Linked DNA regions of Homo sapiens: region 1 is linked to region 2. Evidence: fine-mapped expression QTL. A gene starts in region 2. The other region holds a variant in brackets. All regions are shown on one strand. Distances are from middle to middle.

Region 1 (5,371 bases), 13 kb after region 2:
GGAGGCGGAGGTTGCAGTGAGCCGAGATCTCACCACTGCACTCTAGCCTGGGGAACAGAGTGAGATTCTGTCTCAAAAAATAAATAAATAAAAAAGAAAGACAGAAAGAAAGAAGAAAAAAAGGAAGGAAGGAAGGAAGGAAGGAAGGAAGAAAGAAAGAAAGAAAGAAAGAAAGAAAGAAAGAAAAAGAAAGAAAGAAAGAAAGAAAGAAAGAAGGAAAGAAAGAAAAAGAAAGAGAGAGAGAAAGGAACCCTTAAATCTAGATAGCCTCAGCCCAAGGTCAGAGAGCTTTGTTGCCACGGATTGGTTGGTTAGTAACTTGCTTTATGTTGAAGACAGGCCTGGCTTTGACTTTATACAGTTACTTGCAGATTCTTTGAACCTCAGTTTTCCTACCTGTAAAATGGGATTGATATAGCTACTTTGAAGAGTGTTCGTGAGGATTCAGCAAGATCAAGTTTGCTAAGTGGCCATCACCGGACAGGGGCTGTTTTCAACATCATTCCCCAACCCTCTTTTCTGTTCCCTTTGTCTAAGGAATGCCATTCTAGACTCAGCATGGTGCAGATGAGACATAGGCTTTGGCCTGAATTGGGGCTTGGCCACGTCAATTATTGGCATCTAACATTGAGGACATATTAGATGTCAGGAATCATGCTAAGGGCCATACATACAACTCCCTTAATCCAAATCTTGCTGCCTACCTCAGAGGTGGGCACCACCTATTATTATCCCCACTTTACAGATGTGGGAATTGAGATATCAACATCACCCTGGCCTCATAAAATGACTTAGGAAGAATTTCCTCTTTTTCTGTTATCTGGAGGAGTTTGCATAATAAGGTTTGTTTATTTACACTTAAATATTCACAAGAATTCACCAGGAGAATCATCTGGGCCTGGAGTTTTCTCTGTGAAAAGAGTTTTGACTATAAATTCAATTTCTTTAGGAGTTCTAGAAGCAGTCCTGTTCCTCTGCCCATGCCTCCTCCTTAATCCTCAGCTCCCAAATCTGAGTCCTGGAGGAGGTGATTATAATTGCAGGCCCTGCAAGGTACCCCCAGTTTTATTTACCCCCCATGTGGACACTCTGGCCTTGACTCTCCTCCTTATTGAATGGCAGGGCAGAGTGGGGTGGGGGAGGAGGCAGAATGCCAAGAATGAGATCCGACTTTGCTATCTTGGCTCCAAGCTTGCACCTCTCCCTGCTCTGGTAAGCTGTAAGGAGCAAGGCCTGTGGCTGGAGGACCCATCCCTGAGGCCAACCTTCTGGGACTGTTCCTGAGGATCCACTATGCAAGGTGCACTGGGCCCTGTGACAGCTTAGCAGAGCAGAGCTGCTCCACCTGGCATTGGGATCTCTAGGAGAAGCTCGGTAAACCTAGAATGAATGAATGAGCAAGTTAACAATGACTTCCTGAATGACTGGAACACCTGCTCTAGGTACCCAGCTTAGAAAGGTTAAAAAGACACTTCATCTGGTGCAAGGCAGACACATGGACACATGGTCCATGACATCTTTGGTGACAAATGCTGTGCTACGGGTGGCATAGGGTACTGTAGGGGTACAAGGGAAAATGTCTGACCCATCCTGGGGGTGGGTGATGGGGGTGGCAGGGGCTTTTTGGAAGAGGGGACACAGGCTGAGTCTTGAAAGACACTAGGAGTTAGTCAGGAGGCTGGTGGAACTGGGAGAGAGCATGGGGTAAGAAAAGCAGGGCACTTCCACAGAAGGGGAAGACACTGCATGGTCCCTGAGCTCGGTCTATTAGAGAAGCTACTGGTCACTCAAAAGTCAGCCTCATTTCCAGGCCATTTATTGCTCCAAAGGATCCTGGACTCACAGTGCATTGGAAGCTCAGTGTTCTGACCTTTCCTGCCAATATCAAGGTCAGGGGAAAGAGATCCCTTTCTACCCGAGCTCAGCATTTCTAACTGGAGGAGGGTGATAAAACAATTAAGGATGCATCTGACAGTGAGTAAGAGAGAACCTAATAAATAGTGTCCTAACTGTTTATTAGGGTGCAGTGGGGGTGAGGAGGGTATTTATTCCATATAAAAAGAAATTCAGGGATGGGCAGTCTGGGGCCACCAGGCCGTCAAGGCTCCAGGCTCCTCTCATTGTCCCTTCCACCAACCTTAGTGTGAAAGCCTTTGTCTTCATGCTTGTTGCCTCATAATTGCAAGATGGCTGCAGCAACTCCACACCTAGATCCAACTTCCAGGCAGAAAGAAGATGGAAAGGCTGAGGGGAATGCCAGTTCTGTACCTTCTAGAAAGAATGTCCTGAAGCCCTACCCGGTGACTTCACTCCTATCTCATTGACCAGAAGTGGGTCCCGTGGCCATCTCTAGGCCAGTCACTGGAAGGTGGCTGGGGAAAAAGGGGTGTGGAGAGGCTTGGGCCAACCAGCCAGGAGCATCTGCTACAGGTGGTCACCCACCCCAGAAAGCACAGCCCTCAGCCCCCTAGCTGTGAGAGCCAGCAGAGGCAGGGGGGAAGCTGGCCACTCCAGAAAGGTCTCGCTTCAACAGTCATTCAACAAATGCTAACCATTGCCCCCACTGTGCCCAGCAACTTGGGCCCTGGAGCCCAGTAGAGGAAGTGAGCTTTCAACACAAGGCCAGGCAGAAAGGAGAGCCAGACCCCAAAGCAGAGAGCCCCTCTCTGGGTGGGAGCATCAGAGGGTCCCAAGCCTGCCAAGGCCTTTCCTTGCCTTTGAAGAAAAGGAGATTAAATAGGACCAGCCTCAAAACCCCAGCAGAAAGGACCTGGCCTCTTTATCTGACTGACTGATGAAGTGGCTTCCTCTGGGGGTTGAAGGAAGGTATGCAGATAAGTGTGAGTAGTAGTTACGCCACGATCATTCAGGAAGAATTGGGGTGGTGTGGGGGCGGGGAGAGGTCACTGCTGTGCCATCAATGTCAGCCTCACACAGTGTTGCAGAGCCCAGGCTCATCCCCTACTCCTCCCATTTCACTGATGTAATCTGACATAGCCTTCCCCCTTGGAGGCCTGAGCCCAGGAAGTTACCTTATGTTACC[G/A]CCCAGCAAGGTCGCTCAGGCCTTCTTGAGCTTGCCCCGTGATTCTGCCAACCAATTTCAGACAGAGCAGATCACTCTGGGTCTAGTAGGAAATGCCCAGGTCTGGGCATCAGAAGGCCTGTGTGACCTTGGACCAGTCAGCCAACCTCTCTGAGCCTTTACTGACACCTTGTGGCAGCTTCTGCCCAAAACCAAAGTGCTTGGGTGAAAATAAAAACCTGTATTTCCCTTCCACTACTCCCCTGCCACTATGCTCTGGTCTGAGTCACATCACTGCAGAAGGATAGCCTTCCAACACACCTCCCCATCCCACCTCTCTAGGCCACTGTCCTGAAAGAATCAGTGAAAAGGCTTCCCAGGGAAGCAGTTACGGCTCAGTCCTCCAGTCTCCAGTTGCAGGTCTCAGAACTCAGTCCTGCACAGTACTAGTACTTTCATCAGCTCCAGGATGAGGATATGGTGGACACGTGCTTATCACATGATGTCAGAAAATCTCCAGAGGCCAGGCATTGGTGGCTTATGCCTGTAAGCTTTGGGAGGCCAAGGTGGGAGGAGTGCTTGAGGCCAGGAGTTCAAGACCAGCCTTGAACAACATGGTGAGATGAGACCCCATCTCTACAAAAAATTTAAAAATTAGCTAGGCATAGTGGCACATGCCTGTAGTCCTAGTTACTTGGGAGAATCGCCTGAGCCCCAGAGGTTGAGTCTGCAGTGAGCTGTGAACATGCCACTGCACTTCAGCCTGGGTGACAGAGCGAGACCCCGTCTCAAAAAAAAAAAAAAAAAAAAAGAAAGAAAGAAAAGAAAATCTTCAGAAGGGAAAAGTAAGTCCACAGCCTCTCCTAGATTACTGCTTGGTCATGTGTTTGTGTGTGTGTGTCTGTGCACATGTGCGCTCACATCTGTGTACACAAACACCTGTGTGTGTTTTGTCATGGACCTGGGGAACTTCCTACCAGGCTCCTGCAATGGAATGGTTTCAACCGAAGCTCTAGCTGGGACAGGGCCCCTCGTTTTTGGCTTTTGAGATGAACGCCCCAACCTAGTTAGTTATCAGTGCTCGGTTTTCTTGGCTTCCTTTCCTGCCCCATCTATATCCTCTGTCTTCCAATCCCACCATCCAAACCTGCTCCAAACCAGAGGTTTAAATGAATCTAATAAAACCACTCCTAGAGGCAGCTGTTCATGGCTAATAAGGGTGCCCAGAGTGGATGGATAGGTTGGGAAGGGCCTTCCAGGCCTAGCGCCAAACATTATTGGTAGAATTTCAAACCAGGTCTCTGTGGCTAAAACTTTGTCTCTTCCAGGCTACTGGTCTGACCCACTGGCACAGGGAAGCAGTTTTGGGTATGAGGGAAAAGCTGTCCTGAGCTCTCCACACCTCCACCCAGCCATCTGGGAATTCTGGGGTAGGGTATGATCTGTGGATGTGGCTTGGGGACTTGGCGTGGACCTGCAGTGGTTGGCTGGCTCCACTCCATCAAGAAGATTAAGAGGTAATTGAGCAGCTGTTCTGGATGAGGGAGTTGCTGCTTGAAAGTTGGAGGTTGGCCTGAAACCCTCCCATTAAATGTGCTTGTCCCTGGGATTCAAGAGCTCTCTTCAAAAGGCAGGGAGCCCATCCAGGCCCTCCTATGGCTGGAAGAAACCAGTAGCAACCCAGAGCATATGGGGAAACTGAGGATCAGAGAGGAGTAGCTGACTCCCATTTTACCAGGTTGAGTGTCATGGCAGCCTGCTGCCTGAGGTTGGGTGGTATGGCCAAAGGTGGTTCTGGGCCAGAATCCTTCCTGCTGGGCTCCAGGAACCTCCTCTCCTGTTGGTTAAGAGCCAGGAGTGCAGGCTTTTGGAGCCAGGGGCTAGACCACCCTCCTGGCACTGCTATATTCCAGCTCCTTCTCCCCACCCTACAACACTGTCCCTAACGCATTTTTCCATTACTTTTGTGCTCTGAAACATTCGATGGCTCCCTATCACCTCCAGGATCTGCTGCAACATTCCCTGCTGGCCCCTCCCCGCATCACCAGCCTCACTCTGTCTGGACTGCCTGCTACTCTTAGCACCCACCTGCCCTCTGCCCTCTCCTCCATCTCCACTGTGGCCTTCCTGCCATCTTCCCATCCCTTAAAAGCCATTTCTCCAGGAAGCCTTCCTGTCTCCACTCCGTAATTGGGGCAAGCTACTTAACCTTTCCAAGCTTCAGATGGCACCTCTGGGAAAAAATGAGGGAATAACAAGATGCTGCCTCCAAAGGGTTGTCGTGAGGCTGTCACCAATGAAATAATGCATACCCAGGGCACATCACAGTACCTCTTGTACAATGAGGAC
Region 2 (5,371 bases):
TTTCTGTCTCTTTTAGAAAATTAGAAGATACAAATAAAACTAACAAATATATAAGTCATCCCTAATTTTTTTTCCACCAGAAAGAACCACTTTGGGGTGGATCAGACCTGAAACTTGGCCCCTTTTCCAATTCTCACAGAAAAATCCTTCATTCAGAAACTCTGAGCATTCAGTAGACTTGACTGAAAATTTGATATGGGGGAAAAGAAGAAATGGTTCATACTGTAGCCACACAAACAACTTTAATTATTTATTTATATTTTTTGTAGAGACGGGGGTCTCATTATGTTTCCCAGGCTAGTCTTGAACTCTTTGTCTAAAGCAATCCTCCCTCCTCGGCCTCCCAAAGTGGTGAGATTACAGGCGTGAGCTCTGGGGCCCGGCCACAAAAGCAACTTTGGAGAAAGAGCAATGATCTGGGAAATTAAAAGGCCTTCCCCCACTCCCCACCTCACTAGGCATTTTTCTTGGCATCTGCACCATCTCCTCCATGCTAACTTCTTTGGCTCTCCCTTCTCCTCTGATCATCTCACCTTTCTCTGCCATCTTCCTCAGGAGCAAAAGGAATTCCTCTCCTTGTCTCATGCTGAGTGGTTTGCAATCACTGTATGTCTAGATAGTTTACCAAAGTTTTTTTTTTTTCCCAAAGACAGTTTTCCATCTAAGAAGAATTTTGATGCCAGGTGTGAAAATATTTTCATCTTGTTTCGTGAAGACATTACACTTTTAGAACTAGAGGATAATTTTATAAATGCTGATATGAAACCTGCTTTTGCTTATAACAATATAGAGTCAGCATATTTTTATGTCAATAGGCAAATCTATATTTTCTGTTTTAATGGCTGCATATTAATCCATATAGTTTCTTTAAACAATCTCTTTTTTTGCTATACATTTAGGCTGTTTCCAATGATTGTTATTATAACATCCACACATCATCTTTGCAAATTTATCTAATTATTGCCTTATGATAACTTCTTAGAAGTAAGATTTCTGAGAATGCACTTTTCAAAGATTTTTCTTGTATTGTTCAGCTACTCTTCAGGAAGTTCGTGCCAGTTTATACTCTCATCAGTTGTTTAATATTATTGTCCCACTTACTATGAATGCTCTAGCTCTATCTCAGCTGTGCCTTGAGGTGTTAAAGAAAGAGCTCCTAGGGCCAGTTTGGTGGCAACAGTAGCCAATTAGTGTGAGATTATCCAAAGGATACAGAATCCCAGGGAGCAAGAATGGGGGCCGTGAGGTCCAGCTGTTTCACTCTATGTAGGTTCTTTTATGGCCTCTCTTGAAGGATTTGAAATTGATTGCTTGATTGATTTTATGAAGGAACACATTATTTCCCTCCAAATGATGGTGGTGGCGATGAGTGCATGGTCATGATGATACCAATGTGTGGTCATGACAGTGTGATATTGATGAGGGTATGGACAATGGTAGTAACAGGTTAACAGTGGTTCTGACGGTGAGTGCAGTGCCAATGATGGAGATGGTGGTGGTGCTGGTGTTGACAATAGGATGGCAGTTATGGTGGTGGTAGTGGTGACAATGTTGGTGATGATGACTTATGATGGTGGTAAGAATGGTGATGGTAACTGTGGTGGTAATAGTGAGTTCAGCACTGATAAGGGAGATGGTGGTGGTGGTACTGACAGTAGGGTGGTAGGAATGGTGGTTGTGGTCACAGCTATGTTGTGATGGTGGTTAAGAAGGTGGTGAGAATGGTGTTGACAGTTGGTGATGGTAGAAATGGTGGTGTGGCATTGACTGTGGGATGGTGGTGACAATGGTGAGAAGATGTGACAGTGGTGAGGGGCAGCGTGATAGAAGGGGGATGGTGGTGGTTCACGATAGTGGTGAGTGGAGTTGGTGCTGATGGGAAGCCTGGTGCTGATGGTAGTGCTGGGGTGTTGTGGAAACAGAAAGGTGAAAGTGCATAGATGATGGTGAAGGAATGCAATACAGGATTAAAATAGATACAAAGGGAGAGAGAGGTTGTCTTAGGAATGTGAATAAAGGAAGCAGCATATTCTAGACCTAGAACAGTGAGGAGACCCACTGGCCAGAGGGGATGGTGGGGGAGACGTGCAGCAGGAGTGGGTGCTGGGAAGAGTCCTGGAAGTAGTGAGAAGAATGTGGACTCCAGGAGGGCAGCACGGGGAGGCATTCTGGGTCCTGGGAGGGATAGGTCAGAGCCGATTGGCCTGCTAGAGAAGAAAAGTGGATGAGGAGCCAGCTGTTGGCCCTCATGCTGGCCTCAAATGGAGGCAGAAGGTAGGCTAGGCCCTCTCCAGTGCAGGCAAGTGTCCCAGGCATGCTGGCAGCATGGAGGAAGCGGGTGTGAAGGGCCTTCAGTAGCTGAGCCAACCTTAGAATGCATGGGCATGGGGAGAGGTAAAATACCCTGTGCTCTTGTACCAGCTGTACCTGGCAGCTCCTACTCTCACCTTTGCTTGAGAGGGAGAAGGGTCTGAAGCAGGGACCCAGAGCTCCAGCTCCCTTCTCTCCCCCGGCTCCCTGCCTCTCAACAGCTCCCTGAATCTCCAGTAGGCAGTTTTTGTTCACTAGAATTGCCTGGATTCAGAGCTCCTTCCCCACCTTTCCAGGTATAGCATGAAGCTGTTTGGTGTGTATACAAAGCTGCAGGATTCACTCTTCCGGGGCACAGATGCCTGAGAAACTTCAGAGAGGCAGAAGGCGTGAGTCTGAGCAGCCATCATCTGGGCATCAAGGGGTTAACCCATCCCTGAGGGCTGGGCCAGGTCTTTTCCTCGGACTGGGCCCCGCCCTCCGGTTCCTCCATAGAAGCCACTGGAGTCAACTAGGAGCTCACTTTGTGGGAGGGAGAAACGTTTTTTTCTCTTATTTGAATGGTGCTGGTGACCTCACAAGGTTTCCATGGTGACAAGACCAAGGGAGCCAGGGGGCCTTGGTGAATTAGGCCAAACAAACCCACCTCCAAGAGTCTTCTCCCAGACTCCAGCCTTGAGGATGAGGACTCCAGGTAATCAGTGAGCTTGCTGAAGAGGGAAGGTTGGGGGCTGGGGACATGCCAGGCCAGGACCTGCAACAGAAACCGCCGCCCCACCTTTCCTTTCTGTGCCCCACCCCATCCTGCCTAAAAAGTTGCTTTCCATGAGGGCTTGGTGCTGAGTGTGGCCCCCACAGGGATGTCTGTGTGGTCACAGAGTACCTGTGGGAGGGCAATTCTGACCCCAAGGTAGGAAGCAGTGATCCGGTAATTCCAGGCACCAAGGCAGATAAAAAGACCAAGGTAGGTGAACAGCAGAGTAGAGGCCTGGGTGTGAAAGGAGAAAGCCATGAGCATCTGGTTGGGAGTGGGAGCCCTGCTCTCTGAAGCTTGACTTTCTCAGGAGCAGCTGGGGGCTGGAGCTTGGGAACACAGGATCATGGGATCCAAGTGACCAGGGTTTGAAACCAGGCATAAATAATGCCTGCACTCTATGGTTGTGGCCTACATGGGACATCACAGGGAAAGCACCGAGTAGGTGCTCAATATGTGTTTGTTTCCTCCCTCCTTCCCTTCCTCTCCTCTCCACCACTCAACAGCCACAGCCTCCTCAAGAAGTTTGAAGTCTGCATTGAACTCATTAATTTCCAGCTTTTGGCCGGGCGTGGTGGCTCATGACTATAATTCCAGCACTTTAGGAGGCCAAGGTGGGCGGATCACCTGAGGTCAGGAGTTTGTGACCAGCCTCACCTACATGGTAAAGCCTCGTCTCTATAAAAATACAAAAATTAGGCGGGCATGGTGGTGGCCACCTGTTATCCCAGATTCTTGGGAGGCTGAGGCATGAGAATTGCTTGAACTTGGGAGGTGGATGTTGCAGTGAGTGGAGAACATGCCACTGTGCTCCAGCCAGGGCAACAGAGCGAGACTCCGTCTCAAAAAGAAAAAAAAATTCCAGCTTTCAATTATTTGATCCTCACATAATTCAATGTCTAAAATATTGTACTCCTACATATTGTCCTAAAATTCTACCATGGAAGCTCCAACCATTGCTTTGCATGAAATCTCCTTGTAAATGGCAACATCTTATCTGGAAGTAATTGTCTTTTCCCTGGACAGGGGCAGTTGTATGAGTGGGTGGGGAGCAAATGGGGTGGGGTGGGGTGGGAGGGTAGACGGGGGGAATGAGTGATGTCTTGTTTGTTTGATTTTTGTTTTTTCTTTTTCTTTTTCTTTCTTCTCTTCTCTTCTCTCCTTTCCTCTTCTCTCCTCTCCTCTCCTCCTCTCTTCTCTTCTTCTCTTTTCTTCTCATGCAGATGGGGCCCATGAGTGAGGAGGACAAGAGAGAAAGGAGAAGTTTGGGTGTAAATCCCAGAGATTGTTCATCATGTGAGAGGAGCCGTGCATGCATTTCATGCCATACTCACACCATGGATGGAGAAAAAAAATCAAGCTTCACTTTCTGAGAATGGCCCTGGGGGCACTGCATCTAGTGCCTGTGCATCTGCAGACCTGCCGGATGCCTCCAGGGGAATCATGCCACCCCAAGCAAGAAAGGGCCCAGTTGCCAGGAGCCTGGAGGCAGAGAGCTGAGGAGCCAGCCCCTGACATCAGAATGGAGCTCAAAGGTTGGCTGGGTGTGACTCTGCCGTGGACAGCTTCTCTTGGGAAATCTACTTTAATGAATCCAGGGGACCAATTTGTAATCAGCCCATCAGATGTTCAGCGACACTTAGCTGGAATCTCGTTGCTGGACTCTGTGCCCCGCAGTGGATGACAGTTCTCCATCAGGGTCTGCAGTCCTCTACCCTGGACTTGCTGCATCCTGGAGCCCCCAGCAGTCAGGTACCGGCTCTCAGAACTGCCTGCATCCCATTGGCCTGAGCTGCTGTCTGCCAGGGCTGCTGGTAACCAGGCCCACAGGGTTGGATATTCCCCCAACAGGGCAGCTCCCAGTCCAAGCCCAACTGTTACCAGCCCAGAAAGATGTTTCAGGATACCCCTTTCCTCCCCACTTCCCTGCCCTCTGCAGCTCCAGCTGGTGCACCCCATCTTTCTCTCCCCCTCCCTGCTAGGCTGGGCCCTAACAGGAGACCTTTGAGGTGGTTGGGCTTGTTCTGCAACCTTGAGTACCCTTGAGCTACTGCCTCACTCCTCAGTTTTCTTCTTCTTAAGGTTTCTAATTGGACTTTGCCAGTGTATTTATTTCAAAACTGGTCATCTTACTGACCTCGCTCATAGTCTCTTATTACTTTTCTAGTTGATTCTCTTGAGTTTTCTGGATAAACAATAATATCATGTACAAATAATGATGACAATTTCTCCTCCTTTCCAAATGTTGTGTTTCCTTTTGTGTATTAATGTACTCTTGCCTTGGCTAAAACTTCCAAAACAATGTAA

Direction of the effects. Alleles are on the strand shown, and positions count from the first base shown. SD is a standard deviation of normalised expression in the study named.
As copies of A replace G in region 1, the expression in esophagus mucosa of the gene that starts at base 2,904 in region 2 goes down (moderate effect, 0.42 SD a copy in GTEx).

The links. PIP is the estimated chance that this variant, and not a neighbour inherited with it, causes the effect.
Region 1: its variant is the best candidate, but not a certain one, in a credible set for the expression of INSYN1-AS1 in esophagus mucosa (GTEx, PIP 0.86).

What each region holds. Positions count from the first base shown.
Region 1 is chr15:73,778,263-73,783,633 of GRCh38, forward strand. No RefSeq gene overlaps it. Among named protein-coding and RNA genes, the nearest start is that of INSYN1-AS1, 13 kb to the left of the region's middle. The variant G/A (reference allele first, on the strand shown) is at 3,044.
Region 2 is chr15:73,765,183-73,770,553 of GRCh38, forward strand. It overlaps INSYN1-AS1 (INSYN1 antisense RNA 1), which reads left to right and starts at 2,904. Exons shown (of 3, transcript NR_120353.1): 1 at 2,904-3,004; 2 at 3,571-3,678; 3 at 4,288-4,620.